Linked DNA regions of Homo sapiens. The protein of the gene in region 1 interacts with the protein of each later gene in a biochemical or structural test. Each region holds a gene or a part of one and is shown in the gene's direction. Other genes may lie near its edges.

Region 1 (7,021 bases):
ATGCTTTGGACTTTTGAAGTCCACTTGTTCTGTACTTGTAAAAGGGAAAGAAGGCCGGGCGCAGTGGCTCACGCCTGTAATCCCAGCACTTTAGATCACTTGAGGTCAGGAGTTTGAGACCAGCCCGGCCAACATGGTGAAACCCCATCTCTACTAAAAATACAAAAATTAGCTGTGCATAGTGGTTGGCACCTGTAGTCCCAGCTACTCAGGAGGCTGAGGCAAGCTAACTGCTTGAACCCAGAAGGCAGAGGTTGCAGTGAGCTGAGATCACGCCACTGCACTCCAGCCTGGGTGACAGAGTGAGTGAGACTCTGCGTTAAAAAAAAAAAAAAAAAAAAAAACTAAAAGGGAAAGGTAATAAATCTCACTTAACATCTCCCTTCGCTCCCTGGGCCTGCCTGAAAGTTACACGGGAGCAACGTGCGTGGCCACATCTCAGCTTTGCCCAACTGACTGGTGTGTCGTTGGTTTGTTCCAGCATTCGGGGATTAATAGCTCGGATGCGGAGGTGCTGACCCTGTTCAATGTGACAGAGGCCCAGAGCGGGGAGTATGTGTGTAAGGTTTCCAATTATATTGGTGAAGCTAACCAGTCTGCGTGGCTCACTGTCACCAGACCTGTGGCAAAAGGTAATGGGGAGATGGATGGGACCCTGTGCTGGGGATTTGATGTAGGCCCCAAGCTGCTGGGGCAGGCGGGGAAGCCAGTACTGGACTGTCCTTGCCACCCTACTGTATTTCTAGTGCCCAGAGCCATGGAAAAATACCCGGCCTGGGAGGCTGGTTTGGTTTGGTATTGTGTTGGTGTCTGTGGGTTCCCTCTCTGCCTTCTGTGTGTTCCTTGGCTTTGTGTGGATCCATGTGAGGACTCACGGGGACACGGTTTTGCTGTGTTACAAATGGTACTTCAGACTGAAGTTGTGAGTGAGTGGTGATTAAGAGAAGGGGCCATAGGCCAGGCACAGTGGCTCACGCCTGTCATCCCAGCACTTTGGGAGGCTGAGGTGGGAGGATCGCTTGAAGCCAGGAGTTTGAGACCAGCCTGGGCAACATAGCAAGACCCCATCTCTACAAATTAAATAAATTAGCCAAGTATGGTGGCGTGTGCCTGTAGTCCCAGCTAGTCTGAAGGCTGAGGCAGGAGGATTGCCTGAGCTTAGGTCGAGGCTGCAGTGAGCTATGTTTATGCCACTGCACCCCAGCCTGGGTTGACAGAATGGTACCCCATCTCTTAAAAAAGAGAGAGAAGGGGTTAGGCATTCCCTTGCATACTCGCATCTGCTGGCTGTGTATGCACATGTGCGTGTGTGTATGCGTGTGCATGTGTGTGTCTGCAGCCCCCGCCATCCCTCCTGTGTTCACCTTCTGGCTATCTTTACCTGAAACCAAACAGCCCCTGCCCGCCGGCCCCATTTCTCCATGCCGCTCACCGCCCGCATGCTCGGATGGGCCAGTGGCTGCCAGCATCTGGTGAAGGGTCGTAACCAGCCATCGTCTTCTCAGGTCTGCCGGAGTTCTTCCCTCAGGGTCTCACCCTCTTCCTCTAACAGGTTTTGCTGCCTGGTGGTTTTCGTTTGTTCCTTGTTGCAAAGAAGATGTCAGGGAGCATTTCTTCCTCTAGTCCCCCTTCTTTCTGTCTCCTTCCCTTGCTCTGCGTCTCTTAGAGGTCTCATGTCCTGTGCTTGTCCATTTTGCTTCCGTTGTCTCTTCTAGACTGCTGGAGTTAATACCACCGACAAAGAGATGGAGGTGCTTCACTTAAGAAATGTCTCCTTTGAGGACGCAGGGGAGTATACGTGCTTGGCGGGTAACTCTATCGGACTCTCCCATCACTCTGCATGGTTGACCGTTCTGGAAGGTACACACTGTAACTTCTCCTCTCGATGTCCTGCCCTCGCCACGGGCACGGGGGGAGCATGCATTTCCAGGCTTGGGGAGACACAGAGGCAGGAGAGCTGGAAGAATGGGCTCCTGCCTGCCTGGTGCCACATCCTGCCCCAGCTTTGAGGGCTGAATCCTCTCAGCTCAGAGAAGAGCTTCCCTAGTTTTGCAGGCGCACGGAGGCCTCCCACCCGTACACCTGCCTCTGCTCTCCCCCTGGCCATTGCAATGCATGCCCGGGATCTGGGTTTACCCTGCAGCCCGACTCCTCCAGGGCAGGCTCCTTCCGTCCTTGGGTCCAGCAGCCTCCCCCCTCCGCTGGGTACTGAGCATCTGAAAAGTCTCAGATAGGGCCCTACACCTCTTCTCCCTTCTCAAGTGCTCAGCCCAGGGGTGGGGCTTGCTGCTTGCAAAGAGCAGCCCACCCTCCTGTACTGCCATCCTATTGCCTTTGAAGAAGGAGGTCAGCCTGGACAGGTGAACTGAGTTGCCTTCAGAAAGGCCTGTCTCAGGCAGCCGCAGCAGGCTTCACGATGTCCATGTATCCTGTTTGCCTGCTGCCGTCTCTCCTCTCCCAAGAGGGGAGGTCTGCGTGTTGAGCCAGGGAGGAAGGAGCCTGCAGCCTGCTCAGGGTGGTGGCTGGTGACTGCGGGGCCAGGGCTTGCTGCTGTCTCTCGGAATGTCCTGCATGTGGGTCTGGCTGTTCCTGCTGGCACTGCCCTCTTCTCTCTCCCCTCCTTTCCCACTCTGCCCTGCTTGCCCGTCAGGGTCTCCGGATGCCCCTGCTGGAGGCAGAGAAGCGTTCTGTTTTTATCATCGTCCCTGTCTTGGTCCTGTCCGTGCTCCCCATGTGCTCCCAATCAGTTGTCTTCGTTCCTCAACATCAGGGAAAGAAAAAACAGCAACACTTCTCCCTGTCATCAGCTCTGCTGTCTCCTTGTCAGGCCTTGGGACGTTCTCTGGGCTCAGTCTAGGGTCGTGCCTCATGCCTCATGCCTCTCTGGGAAGGTTCCCAGGGGCGCCGCCTCCATGGTTGGCTGGTGGGTTTTAAAGGGGAAGGTTGGGAGGAGGCCTGTGGAAGGAGGAGGGCCGTCCACACCCGTGGGGCAAAGCGTGTTCCATGAAACCAGTGCTGTGCGTGCTGGGATGAAAGCCTCCCAGCCTCTCGTGCTGAAGGGAAAGGTGGACCGAACTGGCTTAGCTGCTGTGGCAATGGGGTGGGGGGTGAGTCCTAATCAGAAGGTGGGAGAAGAGAATAACAAAATGGAACTCCGCCCCCTGCCGCCACATTTCCTTAAGTTTTAGGAGTTGGGGCCTATGAGTAGAATTTGAAAGAACTACCAAAAAAGCTTATTTTTGGAAATTAAGTCAGCTTTGCCTGTGGTTTGGCTAGGAATAAATATTTACCTGTGTGCCCCTACAGAGATGACACAGACCCAAAGTGGGACATTGAGCAAGGCACAGGCTGGTTCCCCTCCTGTCCTCTGTCCTCATTCTGTGAGTGCCACCATCACCAGGTACTGTGGCCTGCAGAAATAAACGAGGCACCAACCCTGCCCTCAGGGACCCCGTGTCTTCTTAGGGACAGAGGACTCAGAAACATCTGTGTCCCCGCATGTTAAGTGCATGCACACAGTGCTGAGGCTTTGCAGAGAAGGGCCATGGCTCCCTGAGGAGACCAAGAAAGGCACATAGAAGTGACTTCTCAGCTGGCCCTTGCAGGATCCCTGGGTGCCTGTACCTCTCCAGTCCAGCTGAGCAAGGAGGCTCAGGAATTAATGAAGATGGGGCTTGTGTAGCACGATGGTTCTAGGCCATCCCTTTTCCATGGCTCAAGTCCATTGAAGGCAGCCTCCAAAATCAGGGGGTTGCCTGATCCTCCTAGTGCCACAATCCCAGTCCTAGCTAGAACTTGCCATGGTTCTTCTCCCTAAAAGTTCCCAGGGGACAGGAGACAGGTGTTGCTTTTCTAATGGAGCGGGACCTCGCATGGACGGGGCCCTCCAAGCCTGCTAACACCCTGTTCGCACTGACTCAGCCCTGGAAGAGAGGCCGGCAGTGATGACCTCGCCCCTGTACCTGGAGATCATCATCTATTGCACAGGGGCCTTCCTCATCTCCTGCATGGTGGGGTCGGTCATCGTCTACAAGATGAAGAGTGGTACCAAGAAGAGTGACTTCCACAGCCAGATGGCTGTGCACAAGCTGGCCAAGAGCATCCCTCTGCGCAGACAGGTAACAGAAAGTAGATGGGGGATTTGCACACTCAGCACCACCTCTCTCTCTGGGCCTCTAATGCCCTGCCCTCTCCATTGTCCCTAATTTATAGCTTTGGGCCTTATTTTCTGGCTTCTGGGCAAGGCACAGTGGAATATCATGAACTAAGTGCTCTAGAGTCTGTTTCAAGCTAGTGTAGCCCGTGAATTTCCTGCACCCTCCATATCACACTGCAAGTCCTCCGGACTCCTGGGACATGGATTGGGAGGAAGTCCTATTTGGACAGAATGTGCAGCCAATAGCATGAATTTGAACTGTCCCCAAGGGCTGCTTAGAAGTGCAGAGATGCAGGGTAGAGAAGAGAACTGTTTGTATTAGTCCATTTTCACACTGCTGAGAAAGACATACCCAAGACCGGGCAATTTACAAAAGAAAGAGGTTTAATGGACTCACAGTTCCACGTGGCTGGGGAGGCCTCACAATTGCAGAAGGCAAAAGGCACGTCTCACATGGCGGCAGACGAGAAGAGAGCTTGTACAGGGAAACTCCCCTTTATAAAATCATCAGATCTCGTGAGATTTATTCACTATCACAAGAACAGCACAGGGAAGACCTGCCCCCATGAGTCAATGACCTCCTACCAGGTCCCTCCCATAACACGTGGGAATTCAAGATGAGATTTGGGTGGGGACACAGCCAAACCATCTCAGCCATACCATACCCTTGTCCCCTGTGTGCCCACCCTTCCCCACGGGAGGAAATGGTACAGATGGCACAGGTGTGTGCAAGAATGACCGTTCCCTCAGAAGCCTGTGCTCATTCTGGAAGGTGCTTTGGGAGTTAGGAATCCATAAGCTAAGGCAAAGTATTTGCAAAGAGTCAGGAGAACAGAGTTGTTACTGCAATGATCAGTTATAAAATGTCAAGCTGGAAGAGGTGCATTTGGTCTGCTTATTTTAAAGGTGAGTGAAGTCCAGAAAGGCCAGCTTGTGGCAGAAATAGGTCAGTCCTAGAAGTTGGGCCTCCTGGCCTACCATGGTCTTTGGACCACTCTGTGTTGAGGAAAGAACATCAGATACACAGACATGTGCCTCTGCCATTGTTGGGAAGCCCTGACTAAGAATGGGAAGGAGTCACCCCGTCCCCCCTCCTTGCTCTAGGGTGACCCCACTCTTCCTTGCAGGTGTCTGCTGACTCCAGTGCATCCATGAACTCTGGGGTTCTTCTGGTTCGGCCATCACGGCTCTCCTCCAGTGGGACTCCCATGCTAGCAGGGGTCTCTGAGTATGAGCTTCCCGAAGACCCTCGCTGGGAGCTGCCTCGGGACAGGTAATAATACTTTGACTCCCAACTTTTTGAAGGCATTCCTTGCTTGCTATTCTAGTGGTGGAAGGTGTGTATACTAACACCTTCTGGGCGGTGAAGGTTCATGAAATGCCTGCAGAAACATTCATTCCACTTTCTGCTCGCAGTTGGGTGAAATACAGAGAGGTGGAGATGGGGTGCCTCTCAAGGTTTGAACTTCACCAGCCCCAACTTATGCCACTCTCTGTTTCCCCCGAAAGACTGGTCTTAGGCAAACCCCTGGGAGAGGGCTGCTTTGGGCAGGTGGTGTTGGCAGAGGCTATCGGGCTGGACAAGGACAAACCCAACCGTGTGACCAAAGTGGCTGTGAAGATGTTGAAGTGTAAGTGATGCTTCTGTCCTTGCAAAGAAAATCTTGTCCCATTCCAAGCAAACAGCAGGCCTCGGGCCCAGCAGAACAGCTTCTCTGGTGCCTTTGCTGCCCACACCTGCTCCGCTGCCTGCTTGGGGTTACCTGGGAGTGGAGGGGGTGTTCTGCACCTTGAGATTGTTCTATGACGTCACTCTGTTCCTTGGCGTCAACCTGGGCTGTGGTCAGGTGTTTATCCTGGATCCATCGCTTGCAGGCTTTCCTCACCACATCCCTGCCCACTCACTACCACCTATTGCAACAACGGCTCCCATGAGAGGGAAGAGAAAACAAGTTTGGATGAAGTGGGGAGGAGAGAATCAAGTCCCAGGGAAAAGCAGCCCCTCGACACATACCCCACTCCCTTAGCCTTTATCCTGCCCTCCTCCCTTCCCAAGTAAATGAGTCTCAACGTGTTCTTTAAAGCGGACGCAACAGAGAAAGACTTGTCAGACCTGATCTCAGAAATGGAGATGATGAAGATGATCGGGAAGCATAAGAATATCATCAACCTGCTGGGGGCCTGCACGCAGGATGGTGGGTGCCGGCCAGACTGGCTTTCCCTGCCCAGCGGGGAGAAGATCTGAGCTGGGGTATCAGTCCCAAGGCCTCTCTCAGCCACAGCTAGGGAAGGGGGTTAAGAGAGGCTGCTTTGGCAGAGGTTTAAAATGTGTTATCTCGGGATCTGGGCTCCGCTCATTGGTGTTCATTCAGGAATACAGATACCTAGATTCACACACGTGGTGTGTTAACAGAGGCAGCTGAGTAATTATGGTCTAAGAGCGCTCAGGCTGGGTGCAGTGGCTCATGCCTGTAATCCCAGCAATTTGGGAGGCCGAGGCAGGAAGATCACTTGAGATCAGGAGTTCGAGACCAGTCTGGTCAAAATGGTGAAACCCCATCTCTACTAAAAAATACAAAAGTTAGCCAGGCATGGTCACGCATGCCTATAATCCCAGCTACTCAGGAGGCTGACGCATAAGACTTGCTTGAACCCGGGAGGTGGAGGTTGCAGTGAGCCAAGATCACGCCATTGTACTCCAGCTTGGGAGATACTCCCGCTGTCTCAAAAATAAAATAAATAAATAGGCCAGGCACAGTGGCTCACGCCTGTAATCCCAGCACCTTGGGAGGGTGAGGCGGGTGGATCACTTGAGGTCAGGAGTTGGAGACCAGCCTGGCCAACAGGTGAAACCCCATCTCTACT
Region 2 (6,877 bases), on another chromosome or scaffold:
GCCTCCGAGTCCCGCCACTGCTCTGGGCGGCCGAATCTTGGGCGGAAGGCGGGGGAATGCCACTGAGGCTTGCATGCATGCGTGCATACGTTCATTCATTCATTCGAACGACTTGAGTTGGAGTGGGGAAGTCTGGCTGTGGCCCTCACTCCTCTTTCCCTTCCTCTTCTTGGCCCCAGCCTCCAAAGTCCTCGGCACGTGCTTGGCAGGAGGAGCGGGAGACTGGCTGAGTCCTCTCTCCTGGGAGGCCTCCCTAGCTGACCCATCTACCCCCTGCGCGGCTCCGCCCCAATATTTACCCCACCCACCCCCCGCGATGCCACTGATCGCTCCTTGCATTTCTCGCCGGTTTTCCGGGTAGGTCTCCCGGTGGGCGCGGGCCTGCGCCGAGCACGCTCCTGCCCGCAGTGGGGGCCCAATCCACATCAGCCTCTCGGCCCAAGAGTTTCTCGGCCGGTTGGGGCGCCCCGCGGACACAGCTGGGCAAGGTTTATTCCTCTCTCCTCGCCCCAGCCTCTCCTCGAGCCCTCTTCTTTGCCCTTCAGCGCACAGTAGGAGCGCTGCCGGCTCACTGTGGCCTCAGACCCCTGGGGGATGAAGGCATACGCCGGGGTTTGCCGACTGCTGGAGGAAGGGCAGGCTTCTATTTGGGGGCCGAGGGAGACGACTCCCAGACAGTGGCCGAAGTGCTTAACGTAGTCTCGGCGATTTGCATTTGAACGGTCGGCAGTGAGTCCGCGGCGCTTTGAACGCCCGGCGCAGGAAGCGCGCGTCGGAGCGAGCTGCGGTCTCCGGCGGGTGTGGATTGGAGGGGCCGGGGGATGGGCTGGGATCGAGGGGTGCGTTTGGAAATAGGCTGAAGTAGTGTGTCTGGGTGCAGGCGAGGGCGTGTCTGCGGAGATGGGCCGTTTGTGTTGGCGAGGAGTGTGTGTTTGTGTTTGCAGGCGAGGGAGTTTGTGTCTGTGCGTGTGTGTGTTTGTGTTTGCGGAGTGTGGGGGCGGCCAGGAAAGGTGGCCGGGCTGTCACTCAGCGATCAGGTTGACAGGCGCTCCCTCATCTGGGCCAGGGAGCTCTGATTGCAGATTCGAGGAAACAAAATAGCAATTGTAATTACCGGGCTTTGATAAGATAAAGGAGGGAGGGAGCTGGCCGGGAGGCGGGCGAGCCAGCAAGGGAGGGAGCGGCCTGCGGGGGCCCGGCGGGACATTTGCATCTGTCAGTCACGGGGCGTGCCAGGGCAGAGCCAGGTGCTTGCTCCCGGGGTGTCCCCATCTGCTCCTCTCCCCCAGAGAAACGGACTTTTGGGGAGATGAGAATTTCAACGAACTAGGTGAGGGTCCGCTTCTCAGGAGGGTCTCCAAATCCAAATGTAAAGGAATCCTGGTCCAGCACAGGCTCCCTGGCAGAGGCTGGGACAGGACTGAAACTTGACCTCGGACCCTTCAGATCCCAGGACGCCCATCTTCTCTGGGGCAGAGGAAGAAGGGTGGCTGAAGACCATTGAGGGTCAACCCAGGGCCCTCAGAATCTTCTGGGGGTTCCACAGCTGGAGCTGAATGCTGGTCTCAGCCAGGGGCTCTGCCCCTACCCCCATTCCAGGGAGGGGCAGGTACCCAGAGTGGCTCTGGCTGTGACCCCAGGACCATGCAAACACTGTTGGATGGGCGGGTCACCCTCACCCCTGCCTGGGGCCTACTCCCTGCTCTGCTTATCTCACTGATGTTCAGAGAGTCCATGGTGGGAGAAAGCCCATTTCTTACAGGAAGTGCCTGCTCTCCATCTCTCCATTCAATCATTTGTTCATCGACATACGCAACTAAACATGCTTGAGGGCCTACTGTGTACAAGGATGAGGGTAAGACCACAAGCAAACAGACATAACCTTTGCCCACTTGAAGCAGTGCAGAGAGGGAAACAGACACTCAATGAATTGTGACTCAGGCCTTACACAGAACACAGGGAAGGCAAGGGCTGGCCTGGGCTGTGGCCACTTGTGTCCACCTGACTTGTCTCCGCCTGATGGACCCACCTCCCCATGGGCTTTAGAGGAGACAGTGCCTGCCAAGCCTGTGGCAGATACAAGTGCTCACTAACTGGTGGTGTTCCTGGTGATAATCTGTTGGGAGGAGGTGAAGGCAGGTCTTCCTGGGGAAGTTGCAAATAGGCTGAAGTCTACAGGCTCAGCCACTTCCCCCATCATTCATTCATTCATTCATTCAACGAACTCTTAATTGCAGAACAGCTCTGCCCAGCCTTGTGCCACGAGCTGTGATTTCTGAGCTCATAAGACATGGTCCTTGTGGGCAAGGTCTGTGTGGGCAAGAGCCCACTGAACAGACTCCTGGAGGAGGATGGCAAGTGTGCTCTGGAAGTCTACTTCTCTGAGGAGGGATAAGATCTTGGAACGCACCCTCTAACTGTTTTCCCATCTCTCCATTGCTCAGTGTTTGCATTTATGGCTGGGAGTTGGAAAGATGGGGCACAGGGAAAGGTGGGACACAGAGCAGGGAGGGAGGCAGGGCCTGGCTGTGCTGCTGGACTAGGGCTGCCGCTAATTTTGGCCTAATGGCTTCCTGGGACCACACCAAACCCTCCAGCCCTACCCCCAGGGGAATGGAGGGTCACTGGGGAAGGGGAGGTTGTAAGTGAAGACAGCAGTCTGGTAGGGCATCACCTGCTCCTCACAAGGCACCTGTCCCAGAGCATCTCTGTCCACCCAGGCTGCTCCCACAGAAGCAGCATGGGGGCTCAGGGTTTCCAGAAACCTCAGGGGGGAAGCCACAAGGTGGGGGGCTAGGAAAGGCTTAGACAAGTGCCTACCTTCTCCTATGCCCCAAGCCCAGCTGACCAGCCCCTGCCTAGAATACAGTAGGTGTGTAAATACCTGTGAAATGAAAAACGAGTGGGGCTTTGAGGGGGAAAGGGCTGGGTGGCCTGGATGGAAGTCCCTTCCCCCAGTAAAAGCTACTGAGAGTTTTTTTGCCCCTGCTGCCTGCTGAGGTACGGGGACAGTGGGTCCTGCCAGGGACCTCCGGACTCTCTCTTCCACACAGGTGGCTCGGGGTGCTCCTCAAGCTTCAGGCTAGTGTGTGTGTGTGTGTGTGTGTGTGTGTGTGTGTGTGTGGTGAGGGGCACAGGGGAAGGGGTGATAGTGATAATGGGATGGGGGGAGGGGGAGGCATTTCTGGCTCCCAGGGCCTCCTCGGGAGAGTGAAGGAGACTGGAGAGACCGACAGGACGGGGCACGCGGCCGAAACAGGGGAGCGGGGTCCGGGTGGCACCGGCACGCACTGCGCGAGGGCCGGGTGCGCAGCCATTCGCTGCATGGTTAGCGGCCGCTCCCAGGGGCCCGGCGGGACACACAGTAGGTGGCTCGGAGACCACTGCGTAGCCGGCGGCGGAAGCGGCTGGGCCCGGAGGCGGAGACCCAGACCCGCCAGACTCGGGCGCTCCAGGCGGTCGGGGAAGCCCAGGCTCGGGGTCTCCCGGCCCGCAGAGTTTGCAGCCCTAGGCGCCCCCATCCCCGCGCGTCCGGGACCGGGGAGCGCGCGAGGGGACAGGCCGGGGATAGGGGGAGGCGCCCAGACCGGCCGCCCCCGCCCCTCCCGCGGGTCCCCAGACCCCTCCCCTAGCCCAGACCCTCAATCCCGAACCCGTCGGCCGCCCCTCCCCGGCCGCCCCGCCCCCGCCCCGGGCTGCATCCAGGCCCCAGTTCCCAGCCGGGGGCTGCGGGCTCCCGCCGCCCGCCCCGCGCTCCCCCCTCGCGCCCGGTGCGGCGCCCCCCGCCCCCACCCCTCCCCGCCCTCCCACCTCCCCACCCACCCCGCCAGCCCGTGACCCTCCCGCCCGCTCCGGCTCCCGAGCAGCCAGCGGCCACCGGCTCCGGCAGCGGCGCACAGCGATTCGGTGCGGCGCGGCGAGCACGACGTTCCACGGGACCCGCGGAGCCGCGTCGTGATCGCCGCCGGCCTCCCGCACCCGCACCCTCTCCGCTCGCGCCCTGCTCAGCGCGTCCTCCCGCGGCGGCCCGCGGGACGGCGTGACCCGCCGGGCTCTCGGTGCCCCGGGGCCGCGCGCCATGGGCAGCCCCCGCTCCGCGCTGAGCTGCCTGTGAGTACCGCGCCGCCCTGCCCCGCCACCCGCCCCCCGCGCCCCTCGCCTCACCCGCGCCTCTCTCTCCCGCCCGCTTTTGTCTCCCACAGGCTGTTGCACTTGCTGGTCCTCTGCCTCCAAGCCCAGGTGAGGAGGGGTGCGCGGAGGCGGGGGCCGGGCGCGCCGGTGTGAGACCCGGGTGGGCAGCGCCGGTCGGGGGCACCGGGACTGACTCTGCGGCCGGCGCGGGAGGGCTGAGGGCACCTTAGAAACCCAGCCCCGAGCCACCCCGAGGAGGGAGCTGAGGCACAGAGAGGTAGCACCCCTCCTGAGGTCACACAGCGAGTGAGTGGCCAGGATAGAAACGAAGGTCTCGGAGCCCAGCACTGTCCCCCATGCATCCTCGCCGGCTGGGGGCATAGGGAACACCCAGCCGCCGAGGAAGGGGGCAGCCGCGGCCAGGGGATGGATGTTCGATGCCAGGGGAAGCCGGGTGACTGCAGCAGAGACCCTCTCAGCGCCCCTCGGGGGAGGCTTGTGGCCGATTTGGCCCAATGATCGGGTGCCCAGGTTCCCTGCACTCTCAACATTTGCTCCGTAAATTTGTCTTTATAAATGTCAGGGGTCGGGGAGGGCTGCCTCCCTACTTAAAAGCGCCCTGCTCCTCTAGGAAGGCCCGGGCAGGGGCCCTGCGCTGGGCAGGGAGCTCGCTTCCCTGTTCCGGGCTGGCCGGGAGCCCCAGGGTGTCTCCCAACAGGTGGGTCCAGCTTCTCCCTGGGGCTCGTTCATCCTGGGCTGGGTCTGCCCGACTTGCGTGGGTGGGGGATGGTGGCCTGGGCTGGCATGTTGGGGGAACCCCCAGCACCTGCTGGCGGCTTGGGGCAGTGAGGGGGACGCAGGGTGATGGGGCCACTCGGGCCCCTGGGCGGAGTAGCATTATAATGGTGTATTGTGTATTTTTCAATTTCCTAAAGGTAACTGTTCAGTCCTCACCTAATTTTACACAGCATGTGAGGGAGCAGAGCCTGGTGACGGATCAGCTCAGCCGCCGCCTCATCCGGACCTACCAACTCTACAGCCGCACCAGCGGGAAGCACGTGCAGGTCCTGGCCAACAAGCGCATCAACGCCATGGCAGAGGACGGCGACCCCTTCGGTAAGGCGCGCTGAAGGTAGCTTGTGGGATGCGCGGCGCCTGGACCACCAGTCCCAACTGCACTGGCCGGGGGCCTGCAGGGTCCCCAGCTCAGAAGGGAAGGAGTTAAGGCAGAAAGGTGTCTTGAGGGTCAGCTGGGGAAGAGAGGGCTAGGGAAGGGGCCTCGGGGAGTACTTGGCCACAGGTGCCCCCTTCCCTGCCCAGCAAATGAATGAATCTAGGAATCTCCCTTTACACCTCCCCCCTTCATACACTCCTCCCCAGCTGCAGGTGGAGGCAGGGGGTTCAGGGGGAGGGGGCCTAGGTTTAAGGCAAGCGCTTGAAAGAGGATATGTCGCCAGGGCCCACAAAAGGAGAGTGGGAAAGAGAAGGGAGAGAAATCCCCTCAACTCTCCCAGTTGGAAAAGGAGGTTGCTGGGAACCCTTAAATACTTTAATCGGATGGGTCAATTTACACGTGGAAACTGGGCTTGGAAGGGGGCTCTCCCTGCTCCATTCCCTGGGGAACCCAGGCGGCTGGGGCAGGGCTCCCGGCTCCCTGTGGGGTGGCAAGTGCGGAGAGCTACTGCCGGCAGAGAGGCTGAGGACTGATTGATTTCTAAAACATTCAATATTCCTGCCTTGAAACGGGGCCAATTTCCAGAGTCCTGGATGTACCAAGAGAAAAGCAAGCCCTCTGGGCGGCTGGTGTTGTTTTTAGAGAGCGATTATTGTGAGTTTAAAAACCTTTAAATAATGACCACGTTAAACAAGCATGAAAGGAGAGGGGAAGACTCTATTAAAATGTAATAAAAAGGTGAGGCATTTTAAGAGCTAAGAAGAAAAATGAAGAATGATATAAAACAGAAAAAGAACGAGCTTTTTTTCAGATGTGGAGTTTGAAAGGAGTTGCAAGTCTGTAAATGTTAAAAAAGAGGTTCAAGATTGTTCTCTCTGAATCTCTGGAGAGACCCCTGCGTCTGGCAGAGCGATTAAAACTCTTCTTACTTTCACCTTTTTTAACATTTCCTGAATACTTTCTCCTCTTCTTGAGCCAGTTTGGGGGATCGAGTATGTCTCGCTGCATTTTTTCTGCATCGACGTAGCTGACTTCCCTTCAAAGCTGGAGGAGACATAATTTTCCTGGGATAAATCTGTCACTGGGGTGGAAGAATAGGTTTGAAAATGTTAAGCTTTCCAAAAGCCCGGTCGGGAGAGCTGCCGTAAACTGCGGCCCCAGCTCCCCAGATCGGAGCAGATTCAACCGACATGGGAGAGAGCGGGCTTTCTGGGGTGGGGGTGGGGGCGGCCTGCCTGGTGGCCGAGCTCCCCTACTGGGCTGGCAGAGCAGGCCTACCATCCCTTTGTCCCTCCAAATTAGCTGCTTGCTGCCCTTCTCAGCTTCTAAGGAGAGGAGACGAATGCCTGGCTCTTCCAGGGTTTGCTCTGTCAGAGCAAATGGCCCAGCATCCTTGGATTTCGGGGAGGGAAGCAGAAGTCAAGCTGGTGTGGGGGAATTCATCTTCAGACATCAGAGGAAGCCTGATGTCCACTTCTCTCCGTGGCCATATAAGAGGTTTCCCGCCTTCCCTAGTCCCTGCCCCACAGCAGGATAGGAGCTGGAGGCCCTAAGAACAGAGGCTCAGGGTGT
Region 3 (7,910 bases), on another chromosome or scaffold:
AGATGGTGGGTGCCGGGGCTGGGGGAGCCGAATGGGGAGCAAGTGTTTAATGGGCAGGGAGTTTCAGTTTGGGAAGATGAAAACCATCTGGAGATGGATGGTGGTGATGGTTGCACTAGAATGTGAGTGTCCTTAATGCCACTTACCCGTGCACTTAACAATGGCTAAAATGAGAGAGGCTGTGAGTGTGTGGGGACAGAGGGTGTAAGGGAACTCTCTGTACCTTCCTCTCCATTTTGCTGTGAACTTAAAACTGCTCTGAAAAAAGTCTTTTAAAAAATAGTTAACATCAGGCCAGACACGGTGGCTCATGCCTGTAATCCTAGCACTTTGGGAGGCCGAGGTGGGTGGATCACGAGGTCAGGAGACCGAGACCATCCTGGCTAACACGGTAAAACCCCATCTCTACTAAAAATACAAAAAAAAAAAAAAAATTAGCCGGGCGTGGTGGCGGGCGCTTGTAGTCCCAGCTACTCAGGAGGCTGAGGCAGGAGAATGGCGTGAACCTGGGAGGCGGAGCTTGCAGTGAGCCACGATCGCGCCACTGCACTCCAGCCTGGGTGACAGAGCAAGACTCCACCTCAAAAAAAAAATAGGTTAACATCAATTTTATGTTATGTATCATGTATATTTTACCACCTTTTTTTTTCTTTTTTGAGACGGAGACTCGCTCTGTAGCGCCCAGGCTGGAGTGCACTGGCGCGATCTCAGCTCACTGCAACCTCCACCTCCCAGGTTCAAGCGATTCTCCTGCCTCAGCCTCCTGAGTAGCTGGGATTACAGGCATGCACCACTACGCCCAGCTAATTTTGTATTTTTAGTAGAAATGGGGTTTCACAATGTTGGCCAGGCTGGTCTCGAACTCCTGACCTCAAGTGATCTGCCTGCCTCGGCCTCCCAAAGTGCTGGGATTACAGGGGTGAGCCACCGCACCCAATTAACACCATTTTTTAAAAAGCTAAAAAAAAAAATTGGCTCAATCTCCCCTTATTCTGAAGGTCCTAAAGAAAAACATGCCACTTGCTTTGGGGTGCTTCGGCTCAGTGTAGACCAGTCTATCCCACCGGCCTTATCATCCTCCTGGACTTTTGCAGAAAGACATCATTGTGAGGGTGTCTTGCTGAAGCCAAGAAAGGGAAGTTGAATTGAGAAAGCAGTTGAGCTATTTACAAAGTTTACACAGCCTGGGCCCTTGCCCCGGGCTGAGCTCAGTCATTTTGCCCTGAGGACTATAAGTGGACTATTATGCAGCACTTTCTTTTTTATTATTATTACTATTAAGCCAAGTAAGTTCTTAACAGCTAACACCTGAGCTGGTGGCTCTGAGAAGCCTCTTCACTCCTTCACGGGAGACGGGACCATTCACATGAAGATCCTACATTGTTGTTTTTTTTTTTTTGGAGGTCGAAAAAGGTCACTGTTAGGAGGCTTTCTGGGCCTTTGCTCCTCTCCCTCAATTTATTACCCCTCCAGTGGCTGATGACGTACAGGGAGACTTCCACCCGATAATGACATGGCTTTGTTTATTTCACAAATTCCCAGCATTTACTGTTAATCAGACCCAGTTTGAACCACCCCCAAGGGGCTTGCAGTCTAAACAGCTCACTTTGCTCAGCCTCTTCCTGAGGTCAGGCACTGTCTTGCTAAGGCCGACATCAGCTCATGCCCATTTTACAGATGGGGAAACTGAGAATGCTAAGAAGTGAAATAGCGTAAGGTTATACAACTAACAGGGAGACAGCCTAAACTTGAACCCAACCGGAAGCCCAACATGGCCCCAAGCCTTCCTCGAACCCCAGGACTTGGCAAAGCGGGCGTCCTGGGGTAAAGCATGGCAGAAGGGCTTTGGGTCCAAGCTAAGTGAGGGTCCTGTTTCTAGATCACCTGGCCAGGTGCAGTGGCTCATGCCTGTAATCCCAGCACTTTGGGAGGCTGAGGCGGGAGGATTGCTTGAGGTCAAAAGTTTGAGTCCAGCCCGGGCAATACAGCGAGACCTCGTCTCTACTAAAAAAGAAAACAAAAAATTAGCTGAGTGTGTAGTCCCAGCTACTCAGGAGACTGAGGCTGGAGGATTGCTTAAGCCTGGAAGTTTGAGGCTGTAGAGCTATGATAGAGCCACTGCACTTTAGCCTGGGCAATGGAGCAAGATACTATCTCAAAAAAAAAAAAAAAATTATATATAGGTCCCCTTGTCTCTCTGCTGAGAAGTAACCAGATCTGGAAAAGATTTAGTCACCTTGGTCCAACTATTTCTTTCACATAAAGAAAAAAAAAGGCAATGCAGACCTTCCCATAGGGGCAGCTCTGCCTGAGGCCTTTGCAGGTACCTCTGTTTGTCTGCCCCGGGGCACAGTGGCAGATTGGGCAGGGCAGCTTGCAGTGAGGATTGCTGATGGATGAGCTCCTAGTGTACCTAGCCAGCCATTTACTCACAAACAGCTATTGAGCACCTACTATGTGCCCAGCACTGGAGGTACAACTGGCAACAACACAAATCCGGGCTTGCTCCATGGAGATGACAATCTAAATGCGGTGGAGGGTCAGCTAACAAGTGCAGAAGGTTCTCTTAAGAGCTCAAAGAAGCTCCAACCAGAAGGACTGGGCAGGGGATCCAGAAGGCATCCCCGAGTGGCTACTCCAATGGAGTGGCTTCTCCATTCAGGCAAACCTGAATGGGATAAGTCATTGGCAGGAAGATCTGGGGCCGGGGGTCATCCAGTGGGAAGGGGAGAGATGACGCGGTCAGCATGGCGGGAACACAGGAGCAGAAAGGAAGCAGGTGGGAAGCCAGGTCAAGGGCCAGGGGCACGGAAAGGGGTCAGATGCAGATAAGTGAGTGCTTCCTGGTGCATCCTTCATCCGCAATTCTTCCTTACCTGTGCTTTTGTTGCCTCCATTGCACAGCTGAGGAGGCCAGGGCCTGCGGAGGTTGAGAGTGTGCTCAGGGAGCACCCGGAGCAAAGTGGAAGCCAGATTCCAGATCAGTTCTGCTGGGAATTCCCAGCTCCCAAAAGCCCTGCTGGCTGTCAGTCCCCAGTCACCACAAGCACCTATCCTGTGTGGGTGGGCCTGCAGTTCTGGGAGATATATCAGCTGCCTGCAGCGTCCTTTGCTGAACTCACAGCAAATAGGAGAGACAGGGAGGGGTCCTTGGGAAGCCCTAAATTGAGCTTGCTGTGGGAGTCCTGGGAAGAAAGGAGCCTCATCCTATCAAAAGCCGGGGGAAGACATCAGAGTCCCTCTGCTCAGGTCAGCTGGCACAGGTGGGTCTCCAGGCCTGGGTCTCACTTCCCCAGAGGGTGTGTTCGGTTGGCCCCAGGCTGAGGGAGGAAAGCCCACCTCCCATGTCATTTTGCAAATGGGGAGTCAGGGACCTAGAGATGGAAAGACAACACAGCAAGTGAGGGATGGGTTCTAGGTCCCCTGCACCCTGCACCCTGCACCCTGGCCAACGATGTCTATTTGGCACCAGATCTGCAGGCTCATCTGGGGGACCCCAGGACCCAGAGGCAGCCGGGTTGCATCTCGAAGCTGTGAGCTGCAGCCCAGGAAGGTCCAGGTCTGGGTGGCGCTGCCCAAGCAGGCTGCAGGCCCAAGGAGGAACAAAGATCCTCTCAAGGGGTGCGGAGCTGAGGTTCCGGTCCTGCCAAAGCCACTTGATGACCCCCAAGTGCCCCCCTTTCTGCACCTCAGAGAAGAGCCCTCAAGCCTCCCAGGTCCCCTCCAGGGGCACGAATAAGCCCCAGCAGGGTTCTGAAGGGGTCCCAGGAATCTCCCTGTGGGGATGCGGTGGAGGTGGAGGAGGCTGCGGTGGCCTGGGGACATCTCTGGTCACAGGTGCTGGTGGTATGAGAGATGGGGTAGGCACCAAGCCCCCTGCAGCTGTGGCTAGGCGGGCCTGCAGGAAGGGCCAGGCAGGCTCCTCAGGGACCACAAAGAACAGGGGTTTTCACACCTAGGTGGGCCTGCATCTAGCTAGGACAGTCCCCATCAGGCCATAATGGGCACAGTGGGAGGTAGAACCATGAGTGAGAGAGGGGAGGCTTCCAGAGGCCTGGCCTGGGTCCCTGCTAGATTGAGGGCTCTGGCTATGGTACATGGATATTTCTGCTGTGGAATCAAAGGAGCAGGGGATGCTGAATATCCCCTCTGGCCCTATGCCCTGCTACCTGTCCTTTCACGGAAGGGTGTGTGTGTAGGGGGTGCAGGACCAGGCCTCCCTGGGTGCATCTCTGCCACCTTGCCCTTTGGCTCAGGTGGACCTCCACCAGGTATTCAGAACTCCAGCCCAGAAACGCGCCAAGCCTGTGGGGCCAAGACCTAGGGGGTGGGGGTGGCCTCCCTCCCGCCTGTAGCCAAAGGGTCCTCCCTTGCCCAGCCAGGCCCCGGTGTCGCTTACTGCTCTTATCCACCCCTCCTTCCCAGGCCGGTCCTCAAGGCCCCAGCAAAGGAACCAAGTTCCCGTGAGCCTCCGAAAGGCGAAGGGCAGGCAGCAGCCGCTGGCTTCTGCGCCCACTAGGAGCTTCGGATGCCCGAGTTAGGGCTGCGCCAAGGCGGCCGGAGCAGAGAGGGAGACGGGGACGGGGACAGGCAGGGACAAAGTGCAAGAGGCAAAACTGGCTGAAAAGCAGAAGTGTAGGAGCCGCCAAGGGGCGGGACGAACAGGTCCGTGGGCCGGGCGGAGCCAAGGGTGGGGGCCGGGGTCCCTCCAGGTGGCACTCGCGGCGCTAGTCCCCAGCCTCCTCCCTTCCCCCGGCCCTGATTGGCAGGCGGCCTGCGACCAGCCGCGAACGCCACAGCGCCCCGGGCGCCCAGGAGAACGCGAACGGCCCCCCGCGGGAGCGGGCGAGTAGGAGGGGGCGCCGGGCTATATATATAGCGGCTCGGCCTCGGGCGGGCCTGGCGCTCAGGGAGGCGCGCACTGCTCCTCAGAGTCCCAGCTCCAGCCGCGCGCTTTCCGCCCGGCTCGCCGCTCCATGCAGCCGGGGTAGAGCCCGGCGCCCGGGGGCCCCGTCGCTTGCCTCCCGCACCTCCTCGGTTGCGCACTCCTGCCCGAGGTCGGCCGTGCGCTCCCGCGGGACGCCACAGGCGCAGCTCTGCCCCCCAGCTTCCCGGGCGCACTGACCGCCTGACCGACGCACGGCCCTCGGGCCGGGATGTCGGGGCCCGGGACGGCCGCGGTAGCGCTGCTCCCGGCGGTCCTGCTGGCCTTGCTGGCGCCCTGGGCGGGCCGAGGGGGCGCCGCCGCACCCACTGCACCCAACGGCACGCTGGAGGCCGAGCTGGAGCGCCGCTGGGAGAGCCTGGTGGCGCTCTCGTTGGCGCGCCTGCCGGTGGCAGCGCAGCCCAAGGAGGCGGCCGTCCAGAGCGGCGCCGGCGACTACCTGCTGGGCATCAAGCGGCTGCGGCGGCTCTACTGCAACGTGGGCATCGGCTTCCACCTCCAGGCGCTCCCCGACGGCCGCATCGGCGGCGCGCACGCGGACACCCGCGACAGTGAGTGGCGCGGCCAGGCGCGAAGGGGCGGGGGCGGGGGGCAACGGCCGCCGGGCCAACCCGCTCAGTCACACTCTGAGACCCTCGGCGGGCACCTGCTCGGGGGCCCCGGGAACCGGGGCGGACTCGGGCTCCGGTCCCTTCTGACGCGGGGCTGGGGACGCAGACACTCTTGGCTCCGGCAGCCCAGCGCAACCCCTGAGGTCGGGCGCCGCCTCCCGCCTTCAGAAACTCGGGCTCCGAGCGCCGAATTCCAGCGCCTTCGCCCGTGGGCACAGGGCGCGCGGTGCAGCCACAGGGGGCCCGAGACACGCGCCCCGGCCTGGCCCAGGCTGGGGAACCGCTGGGGTCGGGCTCGCGTCTGAAGGTCCGGGACTGGGTGCGGCCGCCGGGGGTCCCCTACACAGGCAAGCTAATCTGAGCTAGCGCAGGCTTGGGCTCCGGAGGCCCTAGAGGGCAGCTTGGGCTCTGGAGGCCCTTGGGGGCGGCTGCGCCGGGAACCCTGGCCCTTTATCCCCAACCCCACCCCAGAAATAGGGTCCCCGGAGGCGAACAAGCCGAGGGGCGGAGTGGGCCAGGGATCACCTGCCCCGCAATGACCTGCGCCCCGCCCCCAGGCCTGCTGGAGCTCTCGCCCGTGGAGCGGGGCGTGGTGAGCATCTTCGGCGTGGCCAGCCGGTTCTTCGTGGCCATGAGCAGCAAGGGCAAGCTCTATGGCTCGGTGAGTACCGCAGGGGTCTGGCTAGGCACCTAGTTGGGAACAGCGGACATGGCTAGCAGGCTCGTGGCTTCTCCAGCCCCACCTGTGCCTGGGTCTTGGAGGGGTGGCAGGGTCACCAGGTCACGGGACCGGCAGGCCTCCCCAGACAAAGGAAGCAGCCCCAAGGCAGGAACAATGAGGTTCCTGCCATCCCTGAGTGGGCCCCTCCCAGACCGAGGAAAGGGCGCTATTGAGAGCCCTTCCCTTCTCTAGTCCAGAGGGGTAGGTCTCAGTGTTGGAACTGCGGGCTTGAGGCTGGACACGGAGGGAATGAATTCTCTGGCTGCTAGGTGCAGGGCAGGTGGTGAGAGCACCAGCTGTTGTGGGCTGGCCATGTCCCCTTCTCACCCTGTGTGGGTCTTGACACCTTAACTGCTCAGCAGAGACATCTCAGCCCAGGGTGGGGGGTGGGACAGAAGGGGGTTCTGACCCCTGGCTTCAGGCTGGGTACCTTGCCCAAGAGGTGCCCCAGCCCTGACACTGCCCTGCTTTGCTGCAGCCCTTCTTCACCGATGAGTGCACGTTCAAGGAGATTCTCCTTCCCAACAACTACAACGCCTACGAGTCCTACAAGTACCCCGGCATGTTCATCGCCCTGAGCAAGAATGGGAAGACCAAGAAGGGGAACCGAGTGTCGCCCACCATGAAGGTCACCCACTTCCTCCCCAGGCTGTGACCCTCCAGAGGACCCTTGCCTCAGCCTCGGGAAGCCCCTGGGAGGGCAGTGCCGAGGGTCACCTTGGTGCACTTTCTTCGGATGAAGAGTTTAATGCAAGAGTAGGTGTAAGATATTTAAATTAATTATTTAAATGTGTATATATTGCCACCAAATTATTTATAGTTCTGCGGGTGTGTTTTTTAATTTTCTGGGGGGAAAAAAAGACAAAACAAAAAACCAACTCTGACTTTTCTGGTGCAACAGTGGAGAATCTTACCATTGGATTTCTTTAACTTGTCAAAAGTTGTCACGAGTGTGCTGCTATTCTGTGTTTTAAAAAAAGGTGACATTGGATTCCGATGTCATCCCCTGTAGTATGGCGTGGAGCATCTCTGTCTGGAAAGGCCCGCCTGAGGCTTGGGCAGCCAGTTCAGGGAGCTCCCAGGCTTGGCTCTCGGCTAGCATCCTCAGAGGCCCACTCCCTTTGTGCCCTGTTGCTATTAATCGGGACATATCGGTTTACTTCGGGTACAGAAAGTGCGGTGTTGAAGTCCTCGCTGCCACTCTGTTTTTAGATCTGCCAAGACTGACCTTTGAACTTTCCTGTAGTCAATCTTCCTCGATCTACCAGATGGGAGAGACCCTTGGACAACTTTATAAACTCCTGTTTGCCTTTTTTGGATCAGCGACAGCCCCCATCGCTGTGACTATTGGGGAAAAGACGAAGCTCTTTCATAAATTCCATGGAGAGGAATCAATATCCCACTGGAAGGCTAGAAATGGACAAGATAGTGTATTTGCAATCACAAACAAAACCCTAGTGATGAAAAATAATTTGTGATGGCAGATGCTTCTGATGGTGTGATAGAATATGTTTTTGAAAACAAACCATCGAACCCCCCGCCCCACCCCCAAAACGGGCTTCCCTGTGTTTAGGGAGCTTTGGGCTAGAACTAGCTACGATTTTTAGGTGAAATGTCCTTGTAATTGTACAAA
Region 4 (7,021 bases), on another chromosome or scaffold:
CTGGAATGGTTAAGTCACATGTTTACTTGATAATTTTGCAGTCTTCTGCCAGTTAAACTTGCAAGAGTCAAGGAATGGATAGGACTGGGTTTCTAACAAGATACCATCGGTTAAGAACAAAGAGCTACTTTACAAAAGCTAACATTGAAATCAAGTAGTATATATAATATCTCTCACTAAGCAAATTAAGGTGCGCTTCCACAAAGTTGACTGTGAGCACAGTTATAGTGAGCCATATATTTTTGTTGATTTTCATTTGAAGACTGAGAATGTGTGTTTTTAAACAGAATTTCACTGAATGTAATAAAGGCTATATAAGAATGTGGAAAACCTTTCACAACTCTAACCAAACCCTAGAAAGATTATTTTCTTTCAATAAATACTAGCATATTTAGAAATATTAATAACTGATAATTTGTTTTAAATCCAACAGAGTTATTAAAAACAGGGAATATAATCCAGACATTGTAGACGTGTGGGCTATGATTTATGTAAGTTTTTGAGTTACTATTCCCTCTATAAAGGTCTTAAAGATCTGCTAACCTAGCTAAGCTTCCATTAGTCTTTAACTGTTTTCTTAAGTTAATGCTTTATGAACGCCCTCTTTCTTTCCCTAAATTGTTGAACCTGATAACTTCCTTCCAGATACCTTTATCTAGGATTTTTTTTTTAAAAATGGAATACCAGAAAATAGCAGGACATATTCTTGTTTAGTAAAGGAGTTTCCTCTAAGTCTTACAATGATAATTGATTAAACTAAGAATATGTTGATTTAACTGGTGACTGGTTTCTTGAGTTTGATAGTTCAAGAATTAAGATAGTAATTGCAAAGAAAAAAAAATCCCACATCAAAACTGAAAAAAAAATGATGTGGGTGTGCTATTTGTAAGGGATGTGGGTGTTTACTGAAGGCAGCAATAAGAAGGAGAAATTAGTCTGTAGCACCCCCAAATTCCAAGTTTTGAACAGTGCTTCTGTTTGGAATCCATTTATCATTAATTGAATTCCTCAGATAGGTAATATGTAATTTAATGGAAGTAACCTATATCTGTATTTTTCTGTCACAAGGAACAATGTCTTAATTGCCTTTCAAAGTAAACAGCACCATTTTGTCACTCAAAAGCTAATCTTTAGACATGTTTTTGTTCACTACAGAACCCAGTTTCTCAAATTATAGAGAGCATTTTGTAAAATTTACACTGCTTAAATAATGGACTCTGGAATTTCTGATGCAACCACTTAATTTTTCAAGGTGATGAAGCCTCTGTTAAGTATGAGTTTGATAAATTTCTCATAATTTTGTCTTTAGTATTAAAGAACTGTGGCTGCTCTCCAGACTGAAAGTGGCTTCAATACTACTGGCAGGCTTCCAAAGACATTTTACAGACAGTCCTTTCTGACTTAGTGTAAAATAAGTGATTGAGTACCTGTTGCTAAAGAACGGGTTGCACTTTTAGGATCTTGAGCTTGTGATGGAGAGCAGAACCAATTGGCAGGCCAGGGAGAGAAGGGATCGCACCTGCCCCCGTCAGTCTGCGGGAAGAATCATAGACTAGGAGGAGACAAAGACATCTTATAAAGGCTCTCCTGCACCAGTTCAGCATTGCTTTTTTGAGCACACACATGTTTTCTGGTGTCAAGATAAATATTTTAATGTAAATTCCATAATTGATCATTTTTCAGTTTAGCAGTTATAACATATAGACTAAGGAATGTCTGGAACTTTAAAAGAAATGGCAGCACATTACAGGGAGCATTTTACTGATCTTAAAACTGGGTTACAAATTACACAAAATTGAAAACATTAATCACGTGGCTGTATAAAATGAAGTCATTTGAGCTTTTAATAAAAGTCACTAAGGTGAAAATTCCTTTGGTTAAAAAGAAAGAATTCTAAGTAAAATTCGAAGAAGAAAATTTTTTACTTTTCATAATATACTCAGTGACTCTGAGCAATGCTGTAAGAGATGGTCTTTTAGGAAGGAGGAAATGTCCAAGGACCTCTGAATCCTAATGATTAGGTTTCTATGAGCTCCAGAGTTTTCACTATTCGAAAACATTGTAGTGAAACTATTTTTAACAATACAGGTAGATATGCTTACTACTTACTGTAGGGTAATAGAATACAGAAGTCAATCTGAAGGTCATAGTCCTGTTACCTCTAGCCTCTTTTGTTATTAACTCTTGGGGCCAAACCTTAAAACCATTTGCTGATGTAAAGGGATGTAAATTATTTGGCGTTGGCAGTGGTGCCATTATGCCTTTTCATTTCATGTTGTTGAAATACTGTCTCTCAGCTGCAGATGCTCATTAGGAGCATTGCTTTTTGATGTTGGCCTGGGTGCCAAATGGCGGCCTTTCAGGCAGTTTCAATACGTTACATTTAAAACATGCTCAGGCCATGTCTACATGCAGCCACTGAGTTAACGGATTTTCAGTTGGGTAGACACACTTTTCCTTTCCTGCAGTATTAATTTAGCTTCTAAGCAATTGGAGACTCCAAGAGGACTGCACTAAAAGGATAAGCTATTTGGTGTATCTTGTGTATGTGTGCTTTTGAAAAACAGATTGTAATAAACCCATTATGCATTCTATTTTCTTCCATATATACGTAACACTTTCTTGAATTCAAAGATTGCATGGCTGATATGATTTAAAAGGCTTCTATGTAACCTATATTCCACTTCGTACTCTGAGGACTTTTTGATTTGTAGCTGCAAACATGGGTAACAGCTGATCTTCCGTTTTCTATTTGGCGTCATTCCTGAGATAAGGTGTAAAATGCCTTTTGTTGTACATTAATCACCTCCTTTGGTATCTGATTACCTCATCATTTAAGAATATTCATAGTAATGTCACACTGTTTGAGATTGTGTTACATTAGGTATTCTCTTAAATAGTTGATCAAATATGTTTATTGAGTGCCAGCTTTTTATCATCTGCTCTGTGGGGAATTAAAAGGAGTGAGATGACATAATTTCTGCTGTCAGGGAACCTTGGGAGTAGTAGAGACTAGAGATTAAGAGAGGTAGATAACCCTGGGTTGAAACCCCAGACATATCCCTTACTAGCTGTCTGATCTCAGACAAATGATTTAACTCCTTCAAGTTTCAGTTTCCTCTTCCGTGAGATCGGAAAATTAGTAATGCCTACTTGTTAGAGTTATAAATATTTTAGAGATCTTAGGACTTCAGTGCATGTAGGCAGTGTTCATTAGTGAGCAAGAAGGATATATATGGATCTGGAAAAAATAATTATTTAGACATAGTGCCCTCTTTTTAGAAGGATTTTAAAAAGGGTATTATGATACACAGGACTCCTTCAGAGATTAGAACTAGGCTTAAAAAATTGGTCACTAAATATGCCTGCAATTCCATGTTGGTTGTGAATACTTCAGAGAAAAAAATGGCCTGATTATAAGGTTGAAAACCATCAGCACAAGGGTGGATCTAGGTCTTGTTGGGCCTGAAGGGTATATAATTTTGAGGGCCTTCTTTAAGGAAAATACAAAACTCTTCTTGCTTTTGCGAAGGTTAGTTGAATACATGACCATGAGAACACATTGCCAAGTCCCAGTCCCCCAGAGCCTTGGAAGGAGTCCATGCAGTTGAGGAACCCTGAAAACTTCTGGTCCTTCTTTAGCAACTATCCTTTGGTCCACTTGGACCCACTTGCTTGGGAATATAAACTAATCGTTCCAGTTTATTAAACGTGGACCTCATAGAGGTTGTATGTGTAGTGCTTTGAAGATTAGAATCATATATTGAAGTCAAAGTCATTTTTAGAAAGAAGTATTTCACTTTTATTTGACAGAAGATCTTAAATGAGATCTGAGCTGATTTGATATTTGTCACTGCCGATATTCTTGTAAATTACTAACTAGAAGAAAATAAAGCAATTGCTATTATTATTCAAATGAGTGAGATGTAAGTGCCCGATTGGCAGGGCAAGAAGTAGTTTTGCCAGCTAAAGGCATATGATATTGGAGAGGAGACTGAAGATTTTGTTTTAGCTATCTAAAAGGAGATAAACTGGATATATAATACCAATAATTATATCTTAATCATCACGTTATGGTTTACAAAACACTTTGATATGTGCTTAATCTTCACACTAATTATTTAGTAAATATTGACTGAGTACGTGCTCTGTGCTGGGTGCTGGGAATACAGCGGTGAACTAAACGTACATCGTCCCTGTTTTCATGGAGTTTCCAGTCTAGTAGTACAGAGAAATATAGACATTAAAAAGTAACACATACATTTATAATTACATATTCAGATTCAAGTCTAAGAAAAACCCAGGATGAGAGATTATCAAGGGGGATTGGGTGGTTGGGGAGGTGAAGATGTAACATTTAAACAACTGTGAAATAGGAAGAACAGATGGTATTCTCATTTTAGGGCATGGTTGATTGACTACTTAATTCAACAAACATTGAATTACAACAAACATTCCTGAATTCCTTAACTCAACAAACCTTTGTGAAGTCTGGAGAAGGTCAGATAGCTTCAGGAATCGTGTGGAGTTTCACGTTATGAAGTCCAGGAAAATAATACATCTGCCTTTAGAGCTTACCACCTGGAAGGAGGGGAGACAGACATACTATACTTATAAACAGAGGCATGAAGTAAATGCTGTTGGGCCACAAGAAAGGAAGCAATTAATTCTGCCTGGGACTCCCTCGAGCTGGGCTTGGGGAAGAATTGCTTTCATTAGATGGAGCAGGAAGAAGGGGTGATCTGGGCAGAGCAGACACCCTGAGCAGTGGTTGAGATCTGAATCTGGTTGTACATGGGGAACAGTGTGAGAGTAGTGGGGAGGAGTAGCCAGAGATAAGGAGAAAAAAAAATTCTGCAAGTCCAGATTGTAAGTCTTTAAATGGAAACTGAGACTGAGAAAGGTTAAATGACTTAGGCAGGTGGAGCTGGGACTGCAACTTACGTTCGTTGTCTGAATTTTATCCTTTTCTAAGGCAAGGATAATTTGAATATATATAGCATCTGAATACATGCCAAGCAAACAGGAATTCCTGTGGCTTCTGGACTGAGTCTGACCAAAGTGTGGGAGGAGTGATGGGGAGGAAGGGCACTATTCAGAGCTGTGGTCTGAAGGAACCGTCCTGCCATTCTGCAAGTTGCTGTCGTTCTGAGCCTGTTTCCCCATCTGTAAAATGGGGTTAATGACACTTCCCTTGTGGGTCTTGGTGAGCTGAAATAAAACCACATATGTAAAGCAGATATAAAGTATGTACTCATTATGTGCTTTAAAAAAGTTCCCTGTGGTCAGATATTTTATTTGAAATGTTTGTTTAAAAAGGTGTACAGTACTCTGAATATGATGTGCAAAGTTCTGTGCTAGAGGCTTAGAGGAAAAACAAAATAAATTTAAGGTTACTATACTGACCCTTTCAGGTGGTTGGAGAGGAAGCACTTTTGCTTAGTTCAAGCTGCGAAGAAATCATGAAAGATATTATATCAGTAAGTGCCCGAATGAAGCAGGCAGGTAAAAACTGGGAAAATTGAGAGGCAAAAATCATGTCTATTAGTTTTAATGTCTGGGGGAAAAAAGAGGTATAGAAAAGCTAGAACTGACCTGGACCTCCACAGATATGAAGGTAAATAGGGAGAGAGGGCCTGTTTTCCTATAGGATGAGGTGGATCTGGCCAAAGAATTGCTATTGAAGAGCAGTTAAAGGCTGGAACTTGGGGCAAGCCATATTTAAATCTTAAATGTCAGACAAAGGAGAGGAGTCCTGCTGGAGATGACAGAGAAATTAAAAATATATATATATGTTTAAGAGGATAGTTAACAATAGCAACTGAGCGTGTGCTGCCTCAGGCTCTATGTTTGGGACTAGCTGGGAATTAGCAGAGAGTTAAGTAGGAACAAATTCATATAGTTCATTGCAGCACTAAAAGGGAATTCTGGTTTTATATAGCATCCACTATGGTGGTCGGACAAAATGAAGGGCTAACGAAGGGATTTTTATTGCTGTATGAAACATCAACTAGATGATACTAGGAGAAGGGAGGCTAGTGAAGTCCAATGAAAGTATCTTGCTTAATCAGTAGGAACACCTGTATGCGGGGAAAGGACACCATTGGGCTTAGATTCGAAAGATCTGGGTTCAAGAAGTTGCTCTGCTACTAACTAGCCAAGTGAATTTATATCAGTTATGTAACCTCTTTGAACTGTAACTTCCGCAATCGAATATAAGAACAAAATAAGATAATATATGGGAAATGCATTGTAAATGAAATATTTCACAGCTATACATTTTATTAGTAGACATGTTGCTGAAAAATAAAAATCAAATTTTATGTACTGCTAGAGGTGCTTGTTTGATTAAAGAAACCCAACTATGATATATTTTCTAAAGCAGGAAATTTTGGAAAGATACACTTGTAATGATTTTGGATAAGGATAAAGGGGGCATAGCTGAGATGTTAGAAATAACAAAGCAACCAAGGGTAGATGATAGATCCCAAATGGTAGATGACTGAGAGGGAGAAAGATCTTTGAAGTTACAAACTCGAGGAAATTAAATAATCATGGTACTGTAAATATGATGGAGAAATTAAGAGACAGGTTAGGTTTTAGAAAAAGTTTGGGCCTCCTAATACCTTAACTTGTAGGTCAGTATTTTTCAAACTATGGATGATGAAATCTGTTTAACGGGCTTCCATATATATTAAGAAAGAAGTAAGAGAGGAAGGAAAAAGGGGAGGAAGGAGGGAGAGAAGGAGGGAAGAAGTGGAAAAAGAGAGTGTGTTTTATATAAGGGTAAGTACTGCTTTGAGTACTTCAATTTCTCTCTCTCTCTCTCTCTGTCTCTGTCTCTCTCTCTCTCTCTCTGTGTAATATGTAACTTGGTTGTAATGGAAAATACATTCTTTTGGCTCAGGTCAAAAGAGTTTGGAAGCTACTGTCATCGAAGGAAGAATGTGGGATCAAAGAGAGGGTGAAGCAGTCTGTAGTGGAGTAAGAGTACGTCAGAAGGTATAGAATAGAAACTGAA

Evidence for each region.
Region 2: the proteins of FGFR1 (region 1) and FGF8 interact in a biophysical measurement, tested with the Homo sapiens proteins (2 studies listed by BioGRID and IntAct, with this or other methods).
Region 3: the proteins of FGFR1 (region 1) and FGF4 form a complex in vitro, tested with the Homo sapiens proteins (2 studies listed by BioGRID and IntAct, with this or other methods).
Region 4: the proteins of FGFR1 (region 1) and NCAM1 form a complex in vitro, tested with the Homo sapiens proteins (2 studies listed by BioGRID and IntAct).

The regions. Positions count from the first base shown.
Region 1 is NC_000008.11:38,416,636-38,423,656, reverse strand, and holds part of FGFR1 (fibroblast growth factor receptor 1 isoform 1 precursor), read left to right. Parts: intron 1-1,715; coding exon 1,716-1,860; intron 1,861-3,921; coding exon 3,922-4,124; intron 4,125-5,283; coding exon 5,284-5,429; intron 5,430-5,665; coding exon 5,666-5,787; intron 5,788-6,240; coding exon 6,241-6,351; intron 6,352-7,021. UniProt on the Homo sapiens protein: Tyrosine-protein kinase that acts as a cell-surface receptor for fibroblast growth factors and plays an essential role in the regulation of embryonic development, cell proliferation, differentiation and migration.
Region 2 is NC_000010.11:101,773,102-101,779,978, reverse strand, and holds the start of FGF8 (fibroblast growth factor 8 isoform F precursor), read left to right. Parts: upstream 1-3,864; 5' UTR 3,865-4,078; coding exon 4,079-4,110; intron 4,111-4,202; coding exon 4,203-4,239; intron 4,240-4,762; coding exon 4,763-4,849; intron 4,850-5,066; coding exon 5,067-5,247; intron 5,248-6,877. UniProt on the Homo sapiens protein: Plays an important role in the regulation of embryonic development, cell proliferation, cell differentiation and cell migration. Required for normal brain, eye, ear and limb development during embryogenesis.
Region 3 is NC_000011.10:69,772,331-69,780,240, reverse strand, and holds the start of FGF4 (fibroblast growth factor 4 precursor), read left to right. Parts: upstream 1-4,899; 5' UTR 4,900-5,156; coding exon 5,157-5,496; intron 5,497-6,113; coding exon 6,114-6,217; intron 6,218-6,755; coding exon 6,756-6,932; 3' UTR 6,933-7,910. UniProt on the Homo sapiens protein: Plays an important role in the regulation of embryonic development, cell proliferation, and cell differentiation. Required for normal limb and cardiac valve development during embryogenesis.
Region 4 is NC_000011.10:112,964,414-112,971,434, forward strand, and holds part of NCAM1 (neural cell adhesion molecule 1 isoform 2 precursor), read left to right. Parts: intron 1-7,021.